7 linked regions of the Homo sapiens genome follow. The protein of the gene in region 1 purifies or fractionates together with the protein of each later gene. This does not show direct contact. Each region holds a gene or a part of one and is shown in the gene's direction. Other genes may lie near its edges. The genes, in order: P2RX6, EVPL, FLG, PKP1, PLG, F2 and ITIH2.

The links.
Region 2: the proteins of P2RX6 (region 1) and EVPL purify together in Homo sapiens (affinity purification with mass spectrometry; one large-scale study listed by BioGRID and IntAct). This does not show direct contact.
Region 3: the proteins of P2RX6 (region 1) and FLG purify together in Homo sapiens (affinity purification with mass spectrometry; one large-scale study listed by BioGRID and IntAct). This does not show direct contact.
Region 4: the proteins of P2RX6 (region 1) and PKP1 purify together in Homo sapiens (affinity purification with mass spectrometry; one large-scale study listed by BioGRID and IntAct). This does not show direct contact.
Region 5: the proteins of P2RX6 (region 1) and PLG purify together in Homo sapiens (affinity purification with mass spectrometry; one large-scale study listed by BioGRID and IntAct). This does not show direct contact.
Region 6: the proteins of P2RX6 (region 1) and F2 purify together in Homo sapiens (affinity purification with mass spectrometry; one large-scale study listed by BioGRID and IntAct). This does not show direct contact.
Region 7: the proteins of P2RX6 (region 1) and ITIH2 purify together in Homo sapiens (affinity purification with mass spectrometry; one large-scale study listed by BioGRID and IntAct). This does not show direct contact.

The regions. Positions count from the first base shown.
Region 1 is NC_000022.11:21,025,165-21,028,508, forward strand, and holds the end of P2RX6 (P2X purinoceptor 6), read left to right. Parts: intron 1-640; coding exon 641-734; coding exon of another isoform or gene 735-744; intron 745-846; coding exon 847-912; coding exon of another isoform or gene 913-1,087; coding exon 1,088-1,165; intron 1,166-1,255; coding exon 1,256-1,453; coding exon of another isoform or gene 1,454-1,562; 3' UTR 1,563-2,844; downstream 2,845-3,344. UniProt on the Homo sapiens protein: May act as a modulatory subunit rather than a functional channel. Unlike other P2XRs members, P2RX6 does not seem to form functional homotrimers.
Region 2 is NC_000017.11:76,017,307-76,020,806, reverse strand, and holds part of EVPL (envoplakin), read left to right. Parts: intron 1-1,153; coding exon 1,154-1,279; intron 1,280-1,746; coding exon 1,747-1,893; intron 1,894-2,206; coding exon 2,207-2,361; intron 2,362-2,548; coding exon 2,549-2,646; coding exon of another isoform or gene 2,647-2,712; intron 2,713-2,895; coding exon 2,896-3,068; intron 3,069-3,500. UniProt on the Homo sapiens protein: Component of the cornified envelope of keratinocytes. May link the cornified envelope to desmosomes and intermediate filaments.
Region 3 is NC_000001.11:152,304,953-152,308,239, reverse strand, and holds part of FLG (filaggrin), read left to right. Parts: coding exon 1-3,287.
Region 4 is NC_000001.11:201,321,506-201,325,005, forward strand, and holds part of PKP1 (plakophilin-1), read left to right. Parts: intron 1-472; coding exon 473-628; intron 629-1,507; coding exon 1,508-1,684; intron 1,685-2,922; coding exon 2,923-3,076; intron 3,077-3,435; coding exon 3,436-3,500. UniProt on the Homo sapiens protein: A component of desmosome cell-cell junctions which are required for positive regulation of cellular adhesion.
Region 5 is NC_000006.12:160,700,911-160,705,043, forward strand, and holds the start of PLG (plasminogen isoform 1 precursor), read left to right. Parts: upstream 1-1,333; 5' UTR 1,334-1,394; coding exon 1,395-1,443; intron 1,444-4,133. UniProt on the Homo sapiens protein: Plasmin dissolves the fibrin of blood clots and acts as a proteolytic factor in a variety of other processes including embryonic development, tissue remodeling, tumor invasion, and inflammation. In ovulation, weakens the walls of the Graafian follicle.
Region 6 is NC_000011.10:46,725,713-46,729,212, forward strand, and holds part of F2 (prothrombin preproprotein), read left to right. Parts: intron 1-146; coding exon 147-461; intron 462-785; coding exon 786-914; intron 915-998; coding exon 999-1,125; intron 1,126-2,283; coding exon 2,284-2,451; intron 2,452-2,951; coding exon 2,952-3,125; intron 3,126-3,500. UniProt on the Homo sapiens protein: Thrombin, which cleaves bonds after Arg and Lys, converts fibrinogen to fibrin and activates factors V, VII, VIII, XIII, and, in complex with thrombomodulin, protein C. Functions in blood homeostasis, inflammation and wound healing.
Region 7 is NC_000010.11:7,741,316-7,744,815, forward strand, and holds part of ITIH2 (inter-alpha-trypsin inhibitor heavy chain H2 precursor), read left to right. Parts: intron 1-1,830; coding exon 1,831-1,944; intron 1,945-2,766; coding exon 2,767-2,965; intron 2,966-3,475; coding exon 3,476-3,500. UniProt on the Homo sapiens protein: May act as a carrier of hyaluronan in serum or as a binding protein between hyaluronan and other matrix protein, including those on cell surfaces in tissues to regulate the localization, synthesis and degradation of hyaluronan which are essential to cells undergoing biological processes.

The DNA.
Region 1 (3,344 bases):
GCCACTGTGCCTGGCCTCAAGTTTCATAAATTGCATTTATTATCATGTCTTTGAGTCTTCTAAGCAGATCTATTGGATCCTTCTGCCACCGAGCGTCACCTCGTCATGCAGGCAGGCACACACGACCACCAGGCCTGGGGATGATGCCCCTCAACATAGCTCACTGCACCCCGTCTGATCTGGCTTCCCCAACCTCCCCAGCCCTTCGAAACCACGTGGGGCTGGCTCCCACCCACATCCTGTTCCCCTGACCTCTGTGCTGGCAAACCACCTGTGTGCATGTTCCTTCAGGCCCAGCCTCATGTCCCCTCCAGGAAGTCTACCCCAGTTCCCAGGGAAGAGTGAGTTCCCATCTCTGGAATCCCTCAGCCCTGAGCCTGCCCCTTCACATCCCCCGCTGCTGGGTCTGTTTAGGGACTCCTCTGTCCCCCGTCCTCTCAGCAGGCAGGGAACTTCTGAGGGACAGGTCTTCGTTTGCTTTTTCTGTTTTCTCACCAATTACATAGGGCTGAGACCCAGGACTCAGGCTTGGGCTGGGGGTTTATAGAGTCAATTGACAAGTTGGACAGAGGTCTGGCAGGGCCAGCCCCACCTGGGGGTGGGCAAAGCAGGTCACCAGAGCCTTCTTTCCTGCCCACAGGACAGCCACTCACTGGTGGGAGCAACCGGGTGTGGAGGCCCGCACCCTGCTCAAGCTCTATGGAATCCGCTTCGACATCCTCGTCACCGGGCAGGTAGGCACAGGTAGGGGTCAGGCCGGGGATGGGATGGGGCAGGCAGACAGGGCTGGAGGAGGCATGAGGCTGACAGTCGTGGGCTGAGAGGTTCAGCTCAGATCTCTCTCAGGCAGGGAAGTTCGGGCTCATCCCCACGGCCGTCACACTGGGCACCGGGGCAGCTTGGCTGGGCGTGGTGAGTGCGAGCACTGTGGGCACCTGCAGGCTGCAGTGAGTGCTGCTGACCAGGGTGTGTCCAATGCATGCTGGAGCCTCCGGTGCCTGCACATTGAGTCTCGGGGTGCAGGCTGGGGAGGTGGCAGGAGAGCAGGCTCGGGGGCTGGAACATGGGTTGGCCCTGCCTCTCCCAGGTCACCTTTTTCTGTGACCTGCTACTGCTGTATGTGGATAGAGAAGCCCATTTCTACTGGAGGACAAAGTATGAGGAGGTGAGCTGAGGTCGCTCTGCTTGGACCCTGGGTTCTGCCACACTTAGGAAGATGTTGGCTGGATCCCTGACCTGCTGTCCTCATCTGCAGGCCAAGGCCCCGAAAGCAACCGCCAACTCTGTGTGGAGGGAGCTGGCCCTTGCATCCCAAGCCCGACTGGCCGAGTGCCTCAGACGGAGCTCAGCACCTGCACCCACGGCCACTGCTGCTGGGAGTCAGACACAGACACCAGGATGGCCCTGTCCAAGTTCTGACACCCACTTGCCAACCCATTCCGGGAGCCTGTAGCCGTTCCCTGCTGGTTGAGAGTTGGGGGCTGGGAAGGGCGGGGCCCTGCCTGGGGATCTCAAGGATGAGGCCCCAGCATGGAGGATTGGGGGTAGAATTCCACCCTTGAACCCCAGCAGACAGTCCCTCCCCTGACTCCCACCTTGGTAGGGTGCTGCCTCAGGGAGCCATAGAAGTCGGCTGTGTTTTGAGACGGCGACAGAACCTGACCCGTGGAGACTGGGAGAGCCCAGCAGGCACCTGTATTGCAGGGCTCCGACTGCATGTGGCAGGGGCTCCTGCTGCGTCTGGGCCTGGAGGTCTCTCTCCCAGTGCTCTGTCCCCAGTGTTCCTAGCAGAGGTATGCTTACCAGCTGTCAGCACAGACCCTCCTGCTGCCTGGGTCCTGGCCCTCCTCCCCCATCTGCACCCCCATCATAGGTAGAGACCCCACCCTCCCATCGGTCCTACATGGGGCTGTGCAGCTGGAGCCAAAAAGGCAAGGTAGAAAGAGGAGTGATGGGGGAGGGGGATTGTTTCAGCTTCTCTGGTGCTGTGATGCCCCAGGAGAGTCCTAATCTAGGGAATGGGGTGGAGTAGGCAGATAATCCACCTCCCTATCCCCCAGGCAAGGGCGGAGCATGTGTCTTGGGCCCACACCTGCTTAGTTTATGAGGACCGGCTGCTTTCCAGTGGTAGCCCTTTTGCCATGGAGGTCTGGGAGAGAGAGCAGAGGGCGGCAGGGCTAAGTTGGTGATCATTGGGTTCTTCAGGACCTTCTATATCCCTCCTCGGTAACCCCCCAGCCCAACCCCTTGGAATCTTTCCTCCAGGCTTCCTGAGAGCCCTGGGGGTGGGAGGCTGTGGGAGGCTGTACATCTGAAATTCACTTCAGTCCAAGTCATACCTAGGAAGCTGTCTGGGCAGCTGCTCGAGGGAGGCCCTGGCTCTGATCCCAGGCTGGATGGAGTGGCTGGAAGGAATGGTTCCAAACAACACCACCGAGATCTCCCTCAGGCTGGCCAGGTTTTGCAGCTGGAATTCTCCTCTTGGTCCCAGGGCGGGGCAGGGAATTCTAAGTGTCCACCCCAGGGAGGCAAGGGGCTGCTTTCCACTGTGGGTACCTGGTGATCAGGGCAAGCTGTGGAGGGCCAGGGGTGGGGCTGAGACTGGGCTGACATCTAGAATCACCTGCCACCTGGAGCCTCAGTAAAATGCCTGGGGTCCCTGCTGCCTCTCAATCTCCAGAGCCATGTCCATGGGGAGGTGGGCTCTGAAGGGCGAAGGTGGGAGAGCAGGGCCCCTGAGGCCTGGGTATCCAAGGAGGGGCACGTGCACCTGATTCTCCTTGGGGCCCAGAGGAAGCTGATGTCATGGCTGGACAAAGTCACGGAGTAAAGCCAGCAAAGCCACCCTCTTCCTGTGTAGTCCTTACAGGCATGACTGGAAAGTTGGGGGGCATCTATGGTAGACATGGCACAGCCATGAAGAGACCAGTGGGGTGGTGCAGGGTGGACTTGGGGACCCTACCCCTGAAGACTGAGGCCCTGCAGCTACCAGGTGGGCTAGAAGGTAACTGGAACAGGCCTGGGCACTTGTGCACCCATGTAGGAGCATGAGGGCCACACTCTTTTCACCTCAAAGCCCTTGAAGAGTGGGCAAAGACAGCAAGAGAGCTGCAGCCTGGGCCCGAGCTCAGAAACAGCTGTCGCCTCAGTCTGCGCACAGGCATGCACCCCAGGGTAGTGCCTGCAGGGATGCATGTGTCCCCGTGGGGGTGCCTGTGCCAGGCAGGCCTCAGGTGCATGCCATGCTCAGAACCCTGCTGCCCTTTCTAGGCAGCCTCCTTGGGGCCCAAGCTCTGCTCCCTGGATCTGCCACCTAGCAGACGTGGGGAGCCTGACCCCATGCC
Region 2 (3,500 bases), on another chromosome or scaffold:
GCCAGGAGAATTGCTTGACACCAGTAGTTCCAGACCAGCCTGGGCAACATAGCAAGACCCTGTCTCTATACAAATAGATACATCTCTATCAAAATAAATAAATAAATAAAATTTTATGGGGATGAGGTGGGGGGAAATTAAATAAAATATTTCTTAAAAGGCTCTTTAGGAGAATAATAATGAAAAAAAAAACGGTTGAGAAACCCTGATATAATATGCAACTGGGATTTGGGGGCAGATAATGTTTCATACATTTTCCTATAGAACCACAAGACTGTGATCACACACGTTGACAAAAATTCCGTCAAAGCACCTGGAATGCTTCTTTAAAGCACAGCTTCTTCTCCGGGGCTGGGACAAGTGCAGCTCCAATACCCTCTGTCCCAGCAAGAAAGACTTCAGGTGCTGGAGGGAGGCAGGTGACGGTGCCCTTCATTTGTGCAGGAAGGACGAAGACCAAGTGTTTTATGACCCACTTAAAAAAATTAAGTTCAGTGCACAAATAAGACCCCATTTGCAAGAGCACACCAGTGATAAAAGGTCCTGCCGCCTGGGTAGGAAAAAGAAAGACCGACCAGAGTAGGGGAGAGTGACAGTTTAGGTTTAGCTGGTTTAAGTTTAGCTGGTTTAGGTTTATCTGGTTTAAGTTTATCTGGTTTGTGTTTAGCTGGTTTAGGTTTATCTGGTTTAAGTTTATCTGGTTTGTGTTTAGCTGGTTTAGGTTTAGCTGGTTTAGGTTTATCTGGTTTAAGTTTATCTGGTTTGTGTTTAGCTGGTTTAGGTTTAGCTGGTTTAGGTTTATCTGGTTTGTGTTTGGCTGGTTTAGGTTTAGCTGGTTTCGGTTTAGGTGGTTTGTGTTTAGCTGGTTTAGATTTAGCTGGTTTAAGTTTAGCTGGTTTAGGTTTACCTGGCTTAGGTTTTTCTGGTTTAGGTTTAGCTGATTTGTGTTTAGTTGGTTTAGGTTTAGCTGGCTTAGCGGTTACTGGTTTAGTTTAGCTGTTTCACATTTATCTGGTTTGTGTTTAGCTGGTTTGTGTTTAGCTGGTTTAGGTTTAGCTGCTTTGTGTTTAGCTGGCTTAGGTTCAGCTGGTTTGTAGGGTCAGTGGGCAGCAGGTTGCACGAGGCTCTGCCCTTGACCACCCAGTGAACTCAGTTCCAGGAAGAGGCCGACTCAGTCAGCCAGACCCTGGCGAAGCTCAACTCCAACTTGGATGCCAAGTACAGCCCTGCACCTGGGGGCCCCCCTGGCGCCCCCACAGAGCTGCTGCAACAGCTGGAGGTGAGACAACCCCACCAGGCCGTCTGCACCCCACTTCTGGGAATTGGTCCTGTCCATTTTTCTGGGCCTCACCCCTTCTGCCTTGGTACCTAGTCCTATCCCAAGCCCTGGCCTGGGTGCTGGCAGGGGGGTTTACTCTAGCAGGAGGCTGGCCAGGTACCAGCAAGCTCCTCCCACTTCTGGACGTCAGTTTCCTCATTTGCAGTGGGACAAGGGCAGCCTGGGAGAGCTCTGAGGCCTGTCTAGCTTCTGCTTGGTGGCCTGGGTGATGCTGTGCCATCCCCCTCCCTGCAACTAGCAGATCCCAGGATCCTAGGTCCCCCAGAGAGGGGCTCCTTTTACTTTGCTGACTTAGAGACCCCTGCCTTCATGAAGGCCAGCCTCTAGGCCTTTTGAAGGACAGGTATGGTGTGGCCAGCCTCCAATGCAGCCTGGCCTGAGTCCCCCACTGCCTGGGCCCCCGGCAGGCAGAGGAAAAACGGCTGGCCGTCACCGAGAGGGCCACTGGGGACCTGCAGCGGCGAAGCCGGGATGTGGCCCCTCTGCCACAGCGAAGAAACCCCCCTCAGCAGCCCCTGCACGTGGACAGCATCTGCGACTGGGACTCAGGAGAAGTGCGAACTCCCCCACCTCACCCCTGCCACCATCCAGCCCCGCCCAACCCATCCCCTGCCCCTGCCCAAGCCCATCCCTGCTCCATCCCCAGCTGTCTCCTGCGCCCACTTTTGCCCTACTCCTTCCCTTGACTCAGACCCTCCTCTCTCCAAGTCCTGTCCTGCCTCTTTTCTACCCCAGCACCTCCCACCCTACTCTTGTCCCTGTTCCAGCTGCTGTCCCCATTTGTCTCTGTCCCCAGCCCCTACTCTGCCCTGGCCTTGGCCCCCTGCCCCTGAGCCCTCAGGAGCTGCTCCCTTTCTGTGCCCCCAGGTGCAGCTGCTGCAGGGTGAGCGGTATAAGCTGGTAGATAACACTGACCCGCACGCCTGGGTCGTGCAGGGCCCTGGCGGGGAGACCAAGCGTGCTCCCGCCGCCTGCTTCTGCATCCCAGCACCAGACCCTGATGCTGTGGCCAGGGCCTCCCGGTAGGTCTGTGTAGGGATACTCAGGGGCAGGCTGTGGGCAGAGCAGGCCGGCCCTGCGGTGTCCAAGCCCATGGCCCAACAGACCCCTGCTCAAAGGCTGGCCTTCACCTGAAGCTGCGTCTACTGGGGCTGGGGAGGGAGAGAGGCAGAGTGGGGACCTCTTTCTTCAATCTCCTCTTCATTCTAGGCTGGCCTCAGAGCTGCAGGCCCTGAAGCAGAAATTGGCCACAGTCCAGAGCCGCCTGAAGGCCAGTGCTGTGGAGTCTCTTCGGCCCAGCCAGCAGGGTACCCAGGGTGGCCCGGGGAGAGGTGGCTGTGGGGCTAGAAGGAGTAGATTCCGACTTCCGACTGGTCTGTGATGGGCAGGGGTCGCCTTGGGTTAGGGACCATCACTCTGGGGATTTCATCTCTGGGGTGGCCCTGCCCATCCCCTCCACCCTACCCCGACAGGACCCTCTGTGGGCACCTGGTGGGGGCACCTATCTGGCAGTCTGGAGATAGGCCCTGGGCCCTCACCAGCACCTCTGCCCCCAGCTCCATCTGGCTCAGACCTGGCCAACCCACAGGCCCAGAAGCTCCTGACACAGATGACCCGGCTGGATGGAGACCTGGGACAGATAGAGAGGCAGGTGCTGGCCTGGGCGCGGGCCCCGCTGAGCCGCCCCACACCCTTGGAGGACTTGGAGGGCCGCATCCACAGCCATGAGGTGGGTGAGCAGCGGGAAGGGGCGGCTGGGATGAGAAGCGGCCCGGCCCTGGTGCTCACACTTGAGGGAGGTGAGGCAAGTGCAGGAGCGGTGGCTGGGATGGAGATGGAGAAGGGTGTGGACAGACCCGGGCTCAGACAAGCTGGTTCCCCTCCTGGCTCCTCCACTGACCAGCTCCAGGATCTTGGACTACATAACTCTCTGGGCCTTGGTTTCCTCATCCCTGAAGCAGATGTAATAATGCCCAGCTCGCCTGATCATTCAGGAAGGTTCCAGTAGGGCCCAATGTCAACACCCCAGGAGGTATTCTGGTGAAGCTCCTGAAATAGCAAGGAAGCCTGGAGAATCTTAGGAAGAGATGTCCCCTGGCTGCAAGGGGGAGCCTACCTGGGGAGGTTGCAGCATTGTGTAAACTCCTTACCCAAGAACAGC
Region 3 (3,287 bases), on another chromosome or scaffold:
GGGCCGACAGCTCTAGACACTCACTGGTGGGCCAGGGACAATCATCAGGGCCCAGGACAAGCAGGCCCCGGGGATCCAGTGTTAGCCAGGACAGTGACAGTGAGGGACACTCAGAAGATTCTGAGAGGCGGTCTGGGTCTGCGTCCAGAAACCATCATGGATCTGCTCAGGAGCAGTCAAGAGATGGCTCCAGACACCCCAGGTCCCATCACGAAGACAGAGCCGGTCATGGGCACTCTGCAGAGAGCTCCAGACAATCAGGCACTCATCATGCAGAGAATTCCTCTGGTGGACAGGCTGCATCATCCCATGAACAGGCAAGATCAAGTGCAGGAGAGAGACACGGATCCCACCACCAGCAGTCAGCAGACAGCTCCAGACACTCAGGCATTGGGCACGGACAAGCTTCATCTGCAGTCAGAGACAGTGGACACCGAGGGTCCAGTGGTAGTCAGGCCAGTGACAGTGAGGGACATTCAGAAGACTCAGACACACAGTCAGTGTCAGCCCACGGACAGGCTGGGCCCCATCAGCAGAGCCACCAAGAGTCCACACGTGGCCGGTCAGCAGGAAGGTCTGGACGTTCAGGGTCTTTCCTCTACCAGGTGAGCACTCATGAACAGTCTGAGTCCGCCCATGGACGGACCGGGACCAGCACTGGAGGAAGACAAGGATCCCACCACAAGCAGGCACGAGACAGCTCCAGGCACTCAACGTCCCAAGAGGGTCAGGACACCATTCATGGACACCCGGGGTCAAGCAGTGGAGGAAGGCAGGGATCCCACTACGAGCAATTGGTAGATAGATCTGGACACTCAGGGTCTCATCACAGCCACACCACATCCCAGGGAAGGTCTGATGCCTCCCATGGGCACTCAGGATCCAGAAGTGCAAGCAGACAAACTCGTAACGATGAACAATCAGGAGACGGCTCCAGGCACTCAGGGTCGCGTCACCATGAAGCTTCCTCTCGGGCCGACAGCTCTGGACACTCGCAGGTGGGCCAGGGACAATCAGAGGGGCCCAGGACAAGCAGGAACTGGGGATCCAGTTTTAGCCAGGACAGTGACAGTCAGGGACACTCAGAAGACTCTGAGAGGTGGTCTGGGTCTGCTTCCAGAAACCATCATGGATCTGCTCAGGAGCAGCTAAGAGATGGCTCCAGACACCCCAGGTCCCATCAAGAAGACAGAGCTGGTCATGGGCACTCTGCAGACAGCTCCAGACAATCAGGCACTCGTCACACACAGACTTCCTCTGGTGGACAGGCTGCATCATCCCATGAACAGGCAAGATCAAGTGCAGGAGAAAGACATGGATCCCACCACCAGCAGTCAGCAGACAGCTCCAGACACTCAGGCATTGGGCACGGACAAGCTTCATCTGCAGTCAGAGACAGTGGACACCGAGGGTACAGTGGTAGTCAGGCCAGTGACAATGAGGGACATTCAGAAGACTCAGACACACAGTCAGTGTCAGCCCACGGACAGGCTGGGTCCCATCAGCAGAGCCACCAAGAGTCCGCACGTGGCCGGTCAGGGGAAACGTCTGGACATTCAGGATCTTTCCTCTACCAGGTGAGCACTCATGAACAGTCTGAGTCCTCCCATGGATGGACGGGGCCCAGCACTAGAGGAAGACAAGGATCCCGCCATGAGCAGGCACAAGACAGCTCCAGGCACTCAGCATCCCAAGACGGTCAGGACACCATTCGTGGACACCCGGGGTCAAGCAGAGGAGGAAGGCAGGGGTACCACCACGAGCATTCGGTAGATAGCTCTGGACACTCAGGGTCCCATCACAGCCACACCACATCCCAGGGAAGGTCTGATGCCTCCCGTGGGCAGTCAGGATCCAGAAGTGCAAGCAGAACAACACGTAATGAGGAACAATCAGGAGACGGCTCCAGGCACTCAGGGTCGCGTCACCATGAAGCTTCCACTCATGCCGACATCTCTAGACACTCACAGGCAGTCCAGGGACAATCAGAGGGGTCCAGGAGAAGCAGGCGCCAGGGATCCAGTGTGAGCCAGGACAGTGACAGTGAGGGACATTCAGAAGACTCTGAGAGGTGGTCTGGGTCTGCTTCCAGAAACCATCATGGATCTGCTCAGGAGCAGCTAAGAGATGGCTCCAGACACCCCAGGTCCCATCAAGAAGACAGAGCTGGTCATGGGCACTCTGCAGACAGCTCCAGACAATCAGGCACTCGTCACACACAGACTTCCTCTGGTGGACAGGCTGCATCATCCCATGAACAGGCAAGATCAAGTGCAGGAGAAAGACATGGATCCCACCACCAGCAGTCAGCAGACAGCTCCAGACACTCAGGCATTGGGCACGGACAAGCTTCATCTGCAGTCAGAGACAGTGGACACCGAGGGTACAGTGGTAGTCAGGCCAGTGACAATGAGGGACATTCAGAAGACTCAGACACACAGTCAGTGTCAGCCCACGGACAGGCTGGGTCCCATCAGCAGAGCCACCAAGAGTCCGCACGTGGCCGGTCAGGGGAAACGTCTGGACATTCAGGATCTTTCCTCTACCAGGTGAGCACTCATGAACAGTCTGAGTCCTCCCATGGATGGACGGGGCCCAGCACTAGAGGAAGACAAGGATCCCGCCATGAGCAGGCACAAGACAGCTCCAGGCACTCAGCATCCCAATACGGTCAGGACACCATTCGTGGACACCCGGGGTCAAGCAGAGGAGGAAGGCAGGGGTACCACCACGAGCATTCGGTAGATAGCTCTGGACACTCAGGGTCCCATCACAGCCACACCACATCCCAGGGAAGGTCTGATGCCTCCCGTGGGCAGTCAGGATCCAGAAGTGCAAGCAGAACAACACGTAATGAGGAACAATCAGGAGACAGCTCCAGGCACTCAGTGTCACGTCACCATGAAGCTTCCACTCATGCCGACATCTCTAGACACTCACAGGCAGTCCAGGGACAATCAGAGGGGTCCAGGAGAAGCAGGCGCCAGGGATCCAGTGTGAGCCAGGACAGTGACAGTGAGGGACATTCAGAAGACTCTGAGAGGTGGTCTGGGTCTGCTTCCAGAAACCATCGTGGATCTGTTCAGGAGCAGTCAAGGCACGGCTCCAGACACCCCAGGTCCCATCACGAAGACAGAGCCGGTCACGGGCACTCTGCAGACCGCTCCAGACAATCAGGCACTCGTCACGCAGAGACTTCCTCTGGTGGACAGGCTGCATCATCCCATGAACAGGCAAGATCAAGTCCAGGAGAGAGACACGGATCCCGCCACCAGCAGTCAGCAGAC
Region 4 (3,500 bases), on another chromosome or scaffold:
AATGATGGGGGCACTAGATGGCTTTGGAATCTAGAGGCATGGGGCTTCTTCTGGAGGAGTTTGTTCTGGAAAAAAAAAAAGACACATTCTTCAATATCCCAGTCTGCCCATTGGCATGTTGTCCATAGCAGTCCTACCACACACTAGGCCCTGTGATAAGTGCTTTCTCTGTATCATCTTCCAAATAGCCTAGTGAAATGGACAATTGTAGTCTCATTTTACATTTGAGATAGCTGAGGCCCAGAGAAGTGAGGCCAGTCAAGTTCATGCAGCCAGGAAATGACAGATTCAAACTCAGGTCCCAGAGGTGGCCCTGGAAGACTTCCCAGGCTGATAGTGTGGTGGTGCCTGCGCTCATCTTTCCCGATGCAGCCCAGGTGCCTCTGCTCTCTTATTAGCTAGGGTAGGTGGTAGGCCAGGAGCCTGTCGGGCCGGGCAGAGGCTCAGGCCCATGCCTCTCCTTGGTCCCCAGTCTGTGGAAAACTGCATGTGTGTTCTGCACAACCTCTCCTACCGCCTGGACGCCGAGGTGCCCACCCGCTACCGCCAGCTGGAGTATAACGCCCGCAACGCCTACACCGAGAAGTCCTCCACTGGCTGCTTCAGCAACAAGAGCGACAAGATGATGGTGAGCACAGCATCAGCAGGGCGGGGCCTGCCCCATCAAGCACCCCCCCAGGAGCCACTGCCTCATCTGCCCTTTCCTCTGGGCCCTCCTGGAGCCTGAAGCCAGCCCTAAGGGACAGGCCCATGCTGACACCTTGGCCTGGGGCTCAGGGTGCACTCTGGGAGCTGGGTAGAGGCCATTCATCTTGCACAAGGGGGAATCTGTTCTTGGAACTGTAGGGGCTCAGACCACCTTAGAGGTCAAAAACTCCAGCCTTCTGTTTGCAGGCCTTGGTCTTTCTTCCTGTATAGTGGGTCAAGTCTCCCCCATCTTCTCCCTTGCCCTTGAGGATCTGAGGAAAGCCAGAACTCTCACTCTTTCTGGCCTTGGTTCCCACCATCTCCTGAGCCCTGCCAGGTTTCCCCAGAAGCAGAAGCCTACCAGGGATGGGTTGTCAGGTCTCCTTCACTGGGCCCAGCTGTGGAATCCAGGTCTCAGACCACCCTCTTTGGCCCAGGGTGGGTCAAACCTACTGTCTGAGTCTGGAAGAGGAGGAAGCATCATGATGGGAGAGTCCAAAGCAGCCCCACATATCTGGAAGGTTTGGGCCAAGGCTGCCCTGGAACACAGCTCCCAAGATGCCAGGATGCTCTCTTCTCCCACATCCTGGGACAGTCTGGGGGACCATGGCCCATTCCTGCATCCCATGGAGCTGCTGCAGTGCATAGAGGAAAGGGGTGCAGCGGGGCTGTCCTGGGCCCCCTGCCTCTGCAGGCGCTTCCTCAGCTTGCCCTATCTGGAACCACGACCCTGAGGCTGGGGGGATGGGGACAGAATGCCTGGGTTGTGTCCTCTCACAAGGCTCCCCATTGACCCCCCTGACCGGCTCTTTATCCTCAGAACAACAACTATGACTGCCCCCTGCCTGAGGAAGAGACCAACCCCAAGGGCAGCGGCTGGTTGTACCATTCAGATGCCATCCGCACCTACCTGAACCTCATGGGCAAGAGCAAGAAAGATGCTACCCTGGAGGCCTGTGCTGGTGCCCTGCAGAACCTGACAGCCAGCAAGGGGCTGGTGAGTGGGACTGTACCTTCTCTACTGCAGCAGCCCCATCCTCCAGCCACCGTCCAGCCTCTGCTCCCTCCTTTTCCCCCCAGCCTGTCCCCTGACTTCGGAGCCTCCCATGAGCAGAGTGTGCCTGGCATATGCTGGGCTCTGGGCTGGGCAATGGGGAAACACTCCTGCCCTTTAGGAGCTGCTGGGGGATGCAGAGAGGGTGGGCCCACTGATGCTGGATTCTGTCCATGCACACACAATCCCCTTGGCCACATGGCTCCCGGTCCCCAGCTGGCCTCCTGGGCTCTGCTTGAGGTCGGGGAATGCGGCGGAGAAGGTGTTTGGCAAAAGGAGTTTCCCATTTGTTGAACTGACAAAGGTGGAAAAAGAGGGTTTGGGGTCCAAGCAGGTCCAGAGAAGATGTGACAGAATCCGTGCAGATGTTGAGGCCAAATGTATGTAGCTTGGAGGGCACAGTGGTATGGGGCAGAGCCAGAGGAAACCTGTTGCAATCAAGAAGAGTTGAGATGGGCCAGGCGGCCAACTGTTCTTCAGCTTTACTTAGGAAAAGGGAACCGAGCAGCAGCAGCACTAGAGTAGACCGAGGGCAGAGAACTTCCCTGGCTGTGAGGAGAGAGGCTGGGCAGTTCTGAGAATGCCAAACCCACCTAGACCTGTTACACCCAGGATAGCTATGTTGCTTAGAGGCCTGGGCGAACTGGCCTACCTCTAGGGGACCCCAGTTCTCTCTCCATGTGGGCCCAGACCCTTTCTTAGCCCTCTTTTCTCAGGCAAGCCCTCAACAAATATGTGTTGGATTCTAAAGAGGTAGGAAAGTTGGAAGAAGATGGCCAGATGTTTAATTGACAAATACCCTTGACCATATAGTTTCACATGGGCAGATAGCGTGGGGAGATGTAATGGGGGCAGCGCTGAGACAGTGGGGTGAGAGAGCAGCATTGGACGCTTGGGTTACTCTGGAAGCTAACTCTGGGTCACTATGAGTAGGGGAAATGAGACTTCCCTCTCTCCACCCATCTGGGCTGCAGGCTGATCCAGGAGACAGGATCAGGGCTGGGAAAGGGGAGGTGCATGTTAGCCTAGGTTTCTGTAGTTGCCCACATGTGAGCTAGTGCTTCCAATATGAAAGAGAAAGGGTTCTGGGATGTCTGCCTTTGGGGCTCCTTGCCCCTTTCTGCCTGCCATGGTGCCTGGGAAGCCACAGGCTAGCTCATCATCTACTCCTTCTCTCTTAGATGTCCAGTGGCATGAGCCAGTTGATTGGGCTGAAGGAAAAGGGCCTGCCACAAATTGCCCGCCTCCTGCAATCTGGCAACTCTGATGTGGTGCGGTCCGGAGCCTCCCTCCTGAGCAACATGTCCCGCCACCCTCTGCTGCACAGAGTGATGGGTAAGGTCCCTCTCTCTCCTCCCCCTCTAGCTAAGACATGGCAGGCTCCCTACAATTCAAGCCTGCTTGAAGGTCATCCTTTAAGCCATTCCCTGGGATGAGCATTCCAAGAAAGGAAGCTGGCCAAAGACAGGTATGGAGACAGGAGAAGGGAGCCTGTCACCTGAGGGCTGGGAGCAGATCTGCAAAAGTCCTATCTGGGTCTCTGAGCCCTGAGTTGGAGCTGCCAGGAAGCCCTGAGGGCCACCTGGCTCAGAGCCCGGCAGAAGGCTATCGAAGAGTGTGGCCCCAGAGGGAACCCCTCAGCCCTTCCTTCCCCAGTCATCCTGACCCTGTGCCCCAACTCGTTCCTCTCCCAGGGAACCAGGTGTTCCCGGAGGTGACCAGGCTCCTCACCAGCCACACTGGCAATACCAGCAACTCC
Region 5 (4,133 bases), on another chromosome or scaffold:
TATTTTTTTTTCCCAGAGTACTTTCTCAAGCACATCAACATGAGCCCCCTAAGAGACATTTCACATTAAAAATAAAATGTCTGCCCACTGCTGGTTTCTCAATCTGCCTCCACCTTCTGTCCCCTTTAATGAACTGGGCCATGAGGTGAGTCAGAGAGGATAAAGGGAGTGGTAAGAATTTGAGGAGAGAAGAGAGTGAGGCTAAAATAGGAAATCAGGAAAAGCGATTCGGTCCCCCTGTCCCTCACATGGGGCCACCCTCTTGTTGCCCAGTGTGGCTTCTTCTTGAGGGTTCTGCATGGTTCCTCAATCCCAGGGAATTCCGCAGGACATTCCACCCAAGACCATTGGGCTCCCACCTCTACTCTTTTGCCAGTTAATGAATAGGCAGGAATTTCACTGCCTGGAAAGAGGAACAATGCTTTCTGGTCCTTATTTCACATCTAAAATAGAGAGGTCAATTGATTTATTCCTAAATATCTTTGAACACTAAAATAGAAGTTTTACAGCATATATACTACCTGGTTGCTCTAGACTTAAGCCAGGGAAAAGTACAGATTCAACATTTAAAATTGAGATAGACGCTTTCCACTTAATGCTACCAGTCTTGCTTTATTTCATGAGAATGAGAATATAATAATATGGCATACGTTCATTTGGGGGAAAGATTGATGTCTTATAACATAATTTATAATTACAGAAAACATGTGAGTTCACTGGGAATAAATAAATTTTGAAGATAATAAGATACTTTCACTTATGTCGTAATTTCTATGTCATTTGGTGTAGGATGTAGAGATATTAACGTTTACACCTAACTTAAGTTTGTCATCTAAGACCTGAAGGGGTTTTGTCTATCAGCTGCACCCCTGGGTAGAGACACAACCTTGGGGAAGGCCTCAGCCCCATCCCTCGTACAGCAGGAATGAGAACAGCCCTGCCTGTTGGGAAGCTTGAGGGAGGCTATGGACGTGCAGCGCTTGGCAGAGGGTCTCGTCATGGAAGGTTCCAGCAAATGTGAGATACTTTTATGATTTCATTTTCTCCAAAAGAAAGGGAATAAGAGAAGAGGGGAGGAAATAAGACTAATTGCGAGAGATAAAGTACAAGGGTGAGGGAAGGAATAAGGAGACATGACGGCAGCGTGGAGCAGCCGAGGGGGGAGATTGCTTTCACCACTTCCCAGCATCTATTGCAGATTCCACCCTCAAACATGTTGTAAGGACTCTTTATTCAAGGTAATGTTTGAACCCTGCTGAGCCAGTGGCATGGGTCTCTGAGAGAATCATTAACTTAATTTGACTATCTGGTTTGTGGATGCGTTTACTCTCATGTAAGTCAACAACATCCTGGGATTGGGACCCACTTTCTGGGCACTGCTGGCCAGTCCCAAAATGGAACATAAGGAAGTGGTTCTTCTACTTCTTTTATTTCTGAAATCAGGTAAGACATAGTTTTTTTAAATTATAAGAATTATTTTTTCTCCCACAATGTAGTAAAAATACATATGCCATGGCTTTATGTGCAATTCATTTAATTTTTGATTCATGAAACTTCCAGTTGAAAATCTTGTATAAGATTGAGGAATTCTTCAAGAAATAAGTTTAAGTTTCCTGTGAAGATTGTCAGGGTGCTGGAATGAATGGGCAGAGAAAATAATGGGTGATTTTTCAAATCTAAATGAGTGCACCCACATAATGGCCAGTCTAATTGAAAAAGAGCCAATGTAGCTAATTATGCAAAGGACGGCTAAGCTCTTTGCCTGGTTCTCAGTTTGACTAATTTATATCATCTCTGTTACGGTGTCATGCTCCCCTCACTTGCAAGTTAAAACAGTGAAATATCTCTTTGAATATATTCCGTTCTCTCACCAGTTCATGGTGGCGGCAGGGTCGGGGACTCAGCATTTCTCCCTTTGTTATGGCCTGAGGAAGGCTTTCCATCAGTATACGTTTGCCTCTTATCCCCGGAAAAATCACACGCATCCATTTGCCAGATGCTGTGTGCAGATAGTGATCAACAAATACTCAGTTGCTTGGGTTAGGTCCCTACATTTTTACACATACATACATACCTGTGTGTGAATGTGAGTGTGAGTGTGTATCCTTTACAAATACTAGCTTATTTAGCTCGTGGTATAGGTAGGGTAGCATATTCATCCTCATTTTATAAACAAAGAAATCAGACTTAGGAATATCATGTTATTTGCTCAGTGACCAAATTCTCAGATCTGGGAAATAAAGAAAACTGGATTTAAGCCAGGTTTCCCAGAAGGAATCTAGGGCTCTTCTCACTTTTCAGCTTTGTTTAAGCCTTTGAAAGAATATTCTAAACATGTCCTAGTACTTCTTTTTCTTTAAAAAAAAAAAAGCTTTATTGAGATATAATTAACATATAGAATTCACCCATTTAGGCATACAATCCAATGGATTTCAAGATATTGAGAGTTGTGCAGCCACCATCAGAATAAATTTTAAAACTATTCATACCCCCAAAAACGCACTCCACTCTCCTTAGCTGTTACCCCCAATCTGCAGCTTCTGGCAACCACTAATCTACTTTCTGTATTTATATCTTTGCCATTTTGAACATTTCATACAAACGGAATCATACGATTTGCTAGTAGTTCTTCATGTAAATAATGTACGCTTGAAATTCAATCTATAAATTACCAGATAAAATTTTACAAGTTGCACTTTAGAGTCAAATACATTTGAATTTAGTGGAAGCCATTCAAGGAGCTATCAAAGAAAATACAGAGCAGGAGAAAATTAAAGAAATTTTTGTAAGAAATTGGTGTATGTTGGGGGGTATGAATATTATATTTCAATGCATGGAAACTAGGACATAGATCACTATGAACTTATTCAGTGGGCTACACCCAAAGGCTAGATCAAACTTCTCTGCCACAGGATTAACATATGTTTTAACCCACCTGGTGGGCACATTCTCTCATAAGCTCTTTTGGAAAGCCAGGTTTTCTGTGGATGTATCATCTTTCCAGTGTGCTGCAATGCCCGGGGAGAGGGAAAAGTTTCTTTTACAGCCATGCTTAGTGGGAAGTGGAGAAACATCTTCCATTTCACAAATTAAGTCTTTTACACATGCAAATATGCATACACATTCACACACCACAGTGAGGAAGAAATTCTCACACCATTAATAAAATACATTTGCATCAGTAGCAATATACATCTGCATTTTGCCTATAATATAAATGTATTTTTCCACTAAAAGATTTGTTTGATGTTTCCTTGCCAGCAAATAAGCCCTATCAAATCCTATTGCCATATGAGTCCTAGAGGTGAATAAGAGAAGAAAAAATGGGGGAAAATTATTTCAAACTGAAAAGAGAAAAGTTTGATTCTGTTTTGGGATATTTCCTAGGGACATGAGCTGGGGAGGGGATCTCAGCAGCGATGCGCTATGAAGCATAGTAACATAACACAGAGAACTTAATTGAAGGGGGAAATAAATGGAAGTTTTCTTTTTTTGAATATCAGTTGTAGCCTGCTCTGCTATACTTCAAAAAAACTCTTCAGAAAGTTTAACTGAACTCACTGTAGGACACACTTTGTGGATTTATTGTGTGTTTTGAAGTCACACTGTGAGCTATATAGAATTAACCAAAACACAACTCTTCTTGAAAATGAGAGTTCAAGTTGGCAGAAAGTGCGGGGTAAAGACATGGATATGGGCCTAAAGCATCTATTTCTTTGTGATCTTTTGATATATCTCTCAAGTGCTTTTTAGTGGATTAGCTTTAGAATGCATCAGCCAACTCCTGCTCAATAATCCATTTTTCCAGCCCGGAATGTCTTAAATTGAGGAAGGACAAAGTCCCAGAGGTGGGGAGCAGGGGGACTTTGGCCGAGGACTTTGCATGAATCGATGAGCATGCATCCACCTCCCTGTCCTGCCCCTTGTGCTCTGTGTACCCTCAGGAGGTCAGGACAGGCCTTTCTGAGAATGAAAATCTGTTCATTTGCTTTCCTACTGGATACTTGTCATCAGCATACAAACCAATGCGCTCTGCAGTGTGTCATCTTTCAGAACCTCCCCTGACCGCATGTTCCCTGGAGGGCTCGCTGTCTTCAGAGCCAGGCTTGTCTCCTGCTGCAGCCTCCACTGCT
Region 6 (3,500 bases), on another chromosome or scaffold:
AAGGCAAACGGTCAGAAGCCCAGAGAGGTTAAGTAACCTGAGGTCACACAGGCAGAAAGCAGCAAGACCGGGGTTCACACCCCTGTCTGTTCCGGTCCATGTGTGGTCTCACTCACTCTGCTGCCTCCTTGCCCCTCACCCACCAGGCCAGGATCAAGTCACTGTAGCGATGACTCCACGCTCCGAAGGCTCCAGTGTGAATCTGTCACCTCCATTGGAGCAGTGTGTCCCTGATCGGGGGCAGCAGTACCAGGGGCGCCTGGCGGTGACCACACATGGGCTCCCCTGCCTGGCCTGGGCCAGCGCACAGGCCAAGGCCCTGAGCAAGCACCAGGACTTCAACTCAGCTGTGCAGCTGGTGGAGAACTTCTGCCGCAACCCAGACGGGGATGAGGAGGGCGTGTGGTGCTATGTGGCCGGGAAGCCTGGCGACTTTGGGTACTGCGACCTCAACTATTGTGGTGAGCTGCCTGGGTAGGGGGCCTGAGTTGCAGGGACAAATCCTGGTGGGAATAACAACAGCCGCTTCTGCTTATCGAACGCTTACCTCATTGAGTGCGCTCATTACAGCCTTACAGTAACCAGGTGGGGGGTAAGGTCCTGTGCCCATTTCACAGATAAGTACACTGAGGCCCCAGGAGGTTATTGCCTAGTAGCCCAACTGTGCATGCACGCTTAACCTCTGCACCAAATGGCCTCCAAGGCCCGTAGGGGAATTGGGGGGATCTAGGGGATGGGTGAGGAATGGCCCAGCCCAGTCCCAGCCGGTGCCTGGGTCCCAACAGAGGAGGCCGTGGAGGAGGAGACAGGAGATGGGCTGGATGAGGACTCAGACAGGGCCATCGAAGGGCGTACCGCCACCAGTGAGTACCAGACTTTCTTCAATCCGAGGACCTTTGGCTCGGGAGAGGCAGGTGAGGTAGTGGGCATCCGAGGGGATGCGGGGCTGCGGGGCTGGTGGCCAGGACTTGCCCCTCACTGCTTGGCTTGCTCTGCAGACTGTGGGCTGCGACCTCTGTTCGAGAAGAAGTCGCTGGAGGACAAAACCGAAAGAGAGCTCCTGGAATCCTACATCGACGGGCGCATTGTGGAGGGCTCGGATGCAGAGATCGGCATGTCACCTTGGTGTGTCCTGGAGCCCTGCGCTACCATTCACTCCTGGGGGCAGGTGTGCTGCTGGACCCCCACCCTCAGGCCCTGCCTGCAGGCCTGGGCTTTACAGATGACAACAGCTGAGCATCCAGGATCCCACCAACTCCACACAGCAGCCACATGAGATGGGTTGTTTACTTCTTTTTTTTTGTTTCTTAGATGGAGTCTTGCTCTGTCACCTAGGCTGGAGTGCAGTGCTGCAATCTCGGCTCACTACCTCGATCTCAGCTCACTGCAACTTCTGCCTTCCGGGTTCAAACGATTCTCTTGCCTCAGCCTCCTGAGTAGCTGAATTTACAGACATGCGCCACCACACCCGGCTAATTTTTGTATTTTAAGTAGAGACAGGGTTTCACCATGTTGGCCAGGCTGGTCTTGAACTCCTGACCTCAAGTGATCCACCTGCCTCAGCCTCCCAAAGTGCCGGGATTACAGGCATGAGCCACCACACCCGGCCCATGGGTCCTTTACTTCTAAGCAGATGGTAAAGCTGAGACTGACGGAGCTGGTGGCTCACCTCCGCGCACAGCTAATGGGTTTGAATCCAGTTCTTCTGATTCCAGAGCTGTGCTACGCTATGTGAACTCTGGACTGGAAGGACCTAGTTAGGGGGTGCAAAAAGCAGGAGGCAGGTCAGGTGCAGTGGCTCACCCCTGTAATCCCAGCACTTTGGGAGGCCAAGACAGGAAGATCACTTGAGGGCAGGAGTTCGAGGCCAGCCTGGGCAAAATGGTAAAACCCCGTCTCTACTAAAAATGCAAAAATTAGCCAGGTGTAGCAGCATGTCCCTGTAGTCCCAGCTACTAAGGAGGCTGAGGCGGGAGGATCGCCTGAGCCCAGGAGGCTGAGGCTTCAGTAAGCTGTGACTGTACCATTGCACTCCAGCCTGGGTGACAAGAGTGAGACCCTGTCTCAAAAATAAATAAATAAATAAATAAAAAAGTGTGAGGCAGCCCCTCAGCATCACACGGAGGCTCCAGGCCCCAAAGGCGGCCAGCCCAAGCTTGGATCTGGGCCCCGGAGGCAGCTCTGCCCAGCTGGGTTCTTAGACCTGGGATTGTTACTTCTAGGGCTGGTGTAGAGGCAGCCCCCTCATCCTCAGCTCCTAATGCTTCCTGCTGCCCCTCCCAGGCAGGTGATGCTTTTCCGGAAGAGTCCCCAGGAGCTGCTGTGTGGGGCCAGCCTCATCAGTGACCGCTGGGTCCTCACCGCCGCCCACTGCCTCCTGTACCCGCCCTGGGACAAGAACTTCACCGAGAATGACCTTCTGGTGCGCATTGGCAAGCACTCCCGCACCAGGTACAGAACTGGTGGCCCGTGGGTGTCTGGCAGGGGTCTGAGTCCTCCAAAGCGATCATGAGGGGCCCTGGTGGCTCCGGGACACATAGGATGTTCTGTATACCCCCCAGAATATAACATCCCAGCAGTCTCTGCTGGAAAGCCCATTTGGTCACGTCCTGACTGAGGCTTGGAGCTGCGGGGAGAAATCCGTCTGTCTCCTGGTCCCTCCAACACTAGGATATAGCCCATGTGGGAGTCTCTGAAAATAGAGTCTGTCTGGACTAGGGCGTGCAGCCTGTGCCCCTGTCCCCGTCCTCCAGGCTGTCTGACTCCAAAGCCCTGCACGGCTTTAGGCCCAGGAAGAAACACCCAGGGGGCTGCCATGGCAGGAACCAGCCCTATCCCCTCCCTGGTGGCCTGCAGGACACACTGTCTCCCAGACCCCAAGGGCAGGCAGTTTCCTGCTCCTTGCTGGGTGAACCTGCAGCTTCTCCATTTCTTTCTTGGGGTCTCTGCAGGTACGAGCGAAACATTGAAAAGATATCCATGTTGGAAAAGATCTACATCCACCCCAGGTACAACTGGCGGGAGAACCTGGACCGGGACATTGCCCTGATGAAGCTGAAGAAGCCTGTTGCCTTCAGTGACTACATTCACCCTGTGTGTCTGCCCGACAGGGAGACGGCAGCCAGGTGGGCCACCAGATGCTTGTTAGCTGAGGGGCAGAAGCCAAGTTCTGGGCCTGGCTCTGATACCAAGTAGCCTTGCAAGAGCCCCTTTCCCTTTTCCAGGCCTCGGTTTCTTGGAGTGAACCCAAAAGTTCTTTTCAGTACTGGCGTTTTATTTTTTATTTATATTTATTTATTTACTGACGGAGTTCCACTCTTGTCTCCCAGGCTGGAGTGTAGTTGTGCGATCTTGGCTCACTGCAACCCCACCTCCTGGGTTCAAGCGACTCTCCTGCCTCAGTCTCCTGAGTAGCTGGGATTACAGGCTAATTTTTGTATTTTTAGTAGAGACTGGTGGGTTTCACCGTGTCGGCCAGGTTGGTCTCGAACCCCTGACCT
Region 7 (3,500 bases), on another chromosome or scaffold:
TTACTGGTGCCCGCCACCACACCCGGCTAATTTTTTGTATTTTTAGTAGAGGCGGGGTTTCACTATGCTGGCCAGGCTGGTCTCGAATGCCTGACCTCGTGATCCACCCGCCTCAGCCTCCCAAAGTGCTGGGATTACAGGCGTGAGCCACCGCACCTGGCCTGTTCTGTGTTTTTACAATGCCCTGTAGTGTCTGGCTCCAAGAACAATCAACTAACCATGTATTTGTGGACTGCAGAGCATGAACCTGGAGGTGTGAACTGAACATTTCTGGCCTGAGTGACTGCTTTAGCCACTGCACAAGCTTCCTGTAACTCCTCTGCAAACTTTTAGTAACACTGCCACCAACAACTTTCCTAAAATGAGGGTCAAGTCACATTTATTCTCAGAAACCTTTAATAGCTGCTCAACAGAATAAAGGCCCATTCTTGGTGTTTCAGGGTCTCTGTGATCTCTACTTTTAGCTCTTTTTCTCTGCATTCTTCAAGAACCTGTCCTCTGGTCGCATTGAGTTATTTTCTAAAGAAATCATAAACTCTTCTACCTCCACTCCTTCCTCATTCTGTACACTCAGAATAAAATCTCTTCCTCCTTAGCCTTTTGTCTTTCCCCGCTGTCCTCTGACCTTAAAGACAGTTCAGAAGCCACCTCCTCCATTCAGCCTTGCTGTTTGCCTGGGGGGCACTAATCATTTTCATCTTCATTCTCACAGCATTTTACTTGAGCCACTATTGCACCATGTACTTCATTCTATCTTACATTCGTGATTATGTCTGCCCCTTGCACTAAAGTATTACTTTCTTGAAGTTACTGACCATGACTTATGTTTATAGTTAACACCAAACATTGCCAAATTTAGTGATTGCACATAGATTTTTTTTTTCCTTCACCAAGTATTTGTTGAATGGTTAAATGGGAAAGAGCGGGAGAGGGAGAGTGGGGATGGGGGAGCGGGAGGGGAGGGGAAGCAAGGAAGGATTATCTAAAATAATTAGGTTCAATAACAAAGGAGTACTTTCTTGGGAGTAGCTTGATTCTTCATTGCTTTTGGAATTGAATCATATTAATCTGTATGTCAACAATAATAGTGTGTCTCCTTTGTTTTCCTGCATTGTATATGGCTCCTTAAAAAATATATCTCCAGGCTGGGTGAGGCGGCTCACACCTTTAATCCCAGGACTTTGAGAGGCTGAGATGGGTGGATCACTTGAGTTCAGGAGTTTGACACTAGCCTGGGAAACAAAGTGAGACCCCCCATCTCTACAAAAAATACAAAACATTAGCTAGACATGGTGGCACATGGATGTTGCCCCAGCTACTCAGGAGGCTGAGCTGGGAGGATGACTTGAGCCTTGGAGGTCAAGGCTGCAGTGAGCCATGATTGCAACATTGCACTCCAGCCTGGGTGACAGAGGGAGATCCTGTCTCAAAAAACACCCAACTCTATTTTTCTGTCTACACACATATTCACACACGTGTATGTATGTTTCTTATATTTGTGGGTGCATATTTGTGTGTATTTCTTATTCCTTAAGTCTTTCTTATTCATTTTTTATCTCTAGTATCTAGTCTAGTGCATACATTTTTAGCTACAAAATAAATATCCACTATATTTGTAAAATAACATAGGGTTCTGAAGAAGGCTCCGTGACAAAGGGACAATGGAGTATGAACCACTGGGTCCCCAAGACCTGGAGGAGTACCGAGCATGTAGGAGAAGCACAATAAATATTTGTTCTGATTAAATTAAAGATGTTCAGGAATGACATAGTGCTCAAAATCATCTTCCTTTTAATGATTTTGTTTACGTTTTCTTTGTATATTTTCCAGTTGAAAATGACCCACATTTCATCATTTATCTACCAAAAAGCCAAAAGAACATTTGTTTCAATATTGACTCAGAACCTGGAAAAATCCTCAACCTGGTTTCTGACCCAGAATCAGGTAAAATAAAAATAAATTATATTTGCACCAATTAGGTCATTGTCATGCTTTCCTGTCACTGCCTGGGATTTCTTTCTTTCTCAGCTTAATAGAAGTTCTATATATTTCAGTGATATTAGTGAGAAATTAAATTATAAATATATTCTTAACTATTTTGAACCATTATAGTTCAAAATATATACTCTGAGTATGAACTTGCAGATCTTGTTGTGATATAATTAATTTAAATATGAGCCAGGAACGGTGGCTTACACATGCAATCCCAGCACTTTGGGAGGCCGAGGTGGGCGGATCATCTGAGGTCAAGAGTTCGAGACCAGCCTGGTCAAAATGATGAAACCCCACCCCCCACTACTAAAAATACAAAAACAATTACCCAGGCGTGGTGGTACACACCTGTAATCCCAGCTACTCAGGAGGCTGAGGCAGGAGAATTGCTTGAACCCGGGAGGTGGAGGTTGCAGTGAGCCAAGATCACACCATTGCGCTCCAGCCTGAGTGACAGAGTAAGACTCCGTCTCAAAAACAACAACAAAAAATTTAAATACTATATGATAGTCAATTATTTAAATTTTATAAACTGACAATTAAATTTTATAACTGATATAAAATTATTAAATTAAATTTTATTAAAATTTATAAATGTTATATTAACATGTTATAAAATGAGAATCACAAAGAAGAAAATGTTAATGTAAATCTTGAAGCAAAATTATAATAATTTTCCAATATTGCCAAGTTTTTATAAATTTGAATTATAGTACCCACACATGCAAAATAAATGGCACAGAAGAGAAAACATCATTTTTTTCTTTCCTGTAGGAATTGTAGTCAACGGTCAGCTTGTTGGTGCCAAGAAGCCCAACAATGGAAAACTAAGCACCTATTTTGGAAAACTGGGATTTTATTTCCAAAGTGAAGACATAAAAATAGAAATCAGCACTGAGACCATCACCCTGAGCCATGGTTCTAGCACATTCTCCTTGTCCTGGTCCGACACGGCTCAAGTCACGAATCAGAGGCAAGTATGATTCCATCTGAACTTGGGCCTGTCCGTGACACACGACTGCATAAATAAATCCAGGCATCAGTGACATCAACATTGAAAAAAAATCATCATTTTAAATATAAGGAAGTTGAGGTTCAGAAAAATTGTTCTCACTCCCTACTCTGTTCCTGGCAGTGGGCACTGTGTGTTTTTGGTCACCGTTGGGTCCCAGGACCTAGTCCAGTGCCTGGCATCAGTAAACACTCACTGTGTATGTGCTAATCAGTGAACAAATCCACCAGCTGAAATCCATACTGACTCTATCGCAGAGTGAGCTCCAAACGCCATGATTGTGTCCTCTGCGTAGAAGCTTCCCAATGAGTTTCTGTTAATCCATCATTTATCTATAAACTGTTGCAAGCGCTTAGATAACTAGCGGAATTGTCTGGGAGGAGTGAAGAGTTCATATTAGGGGTGAGAAGAATGACTTTCTCAAAAGGTCTGTTCTGGAATGGTTTAATTCCTCTTGGACTTTCACACCAGGGTGCAGATCTCAGTGAAGAAAGAA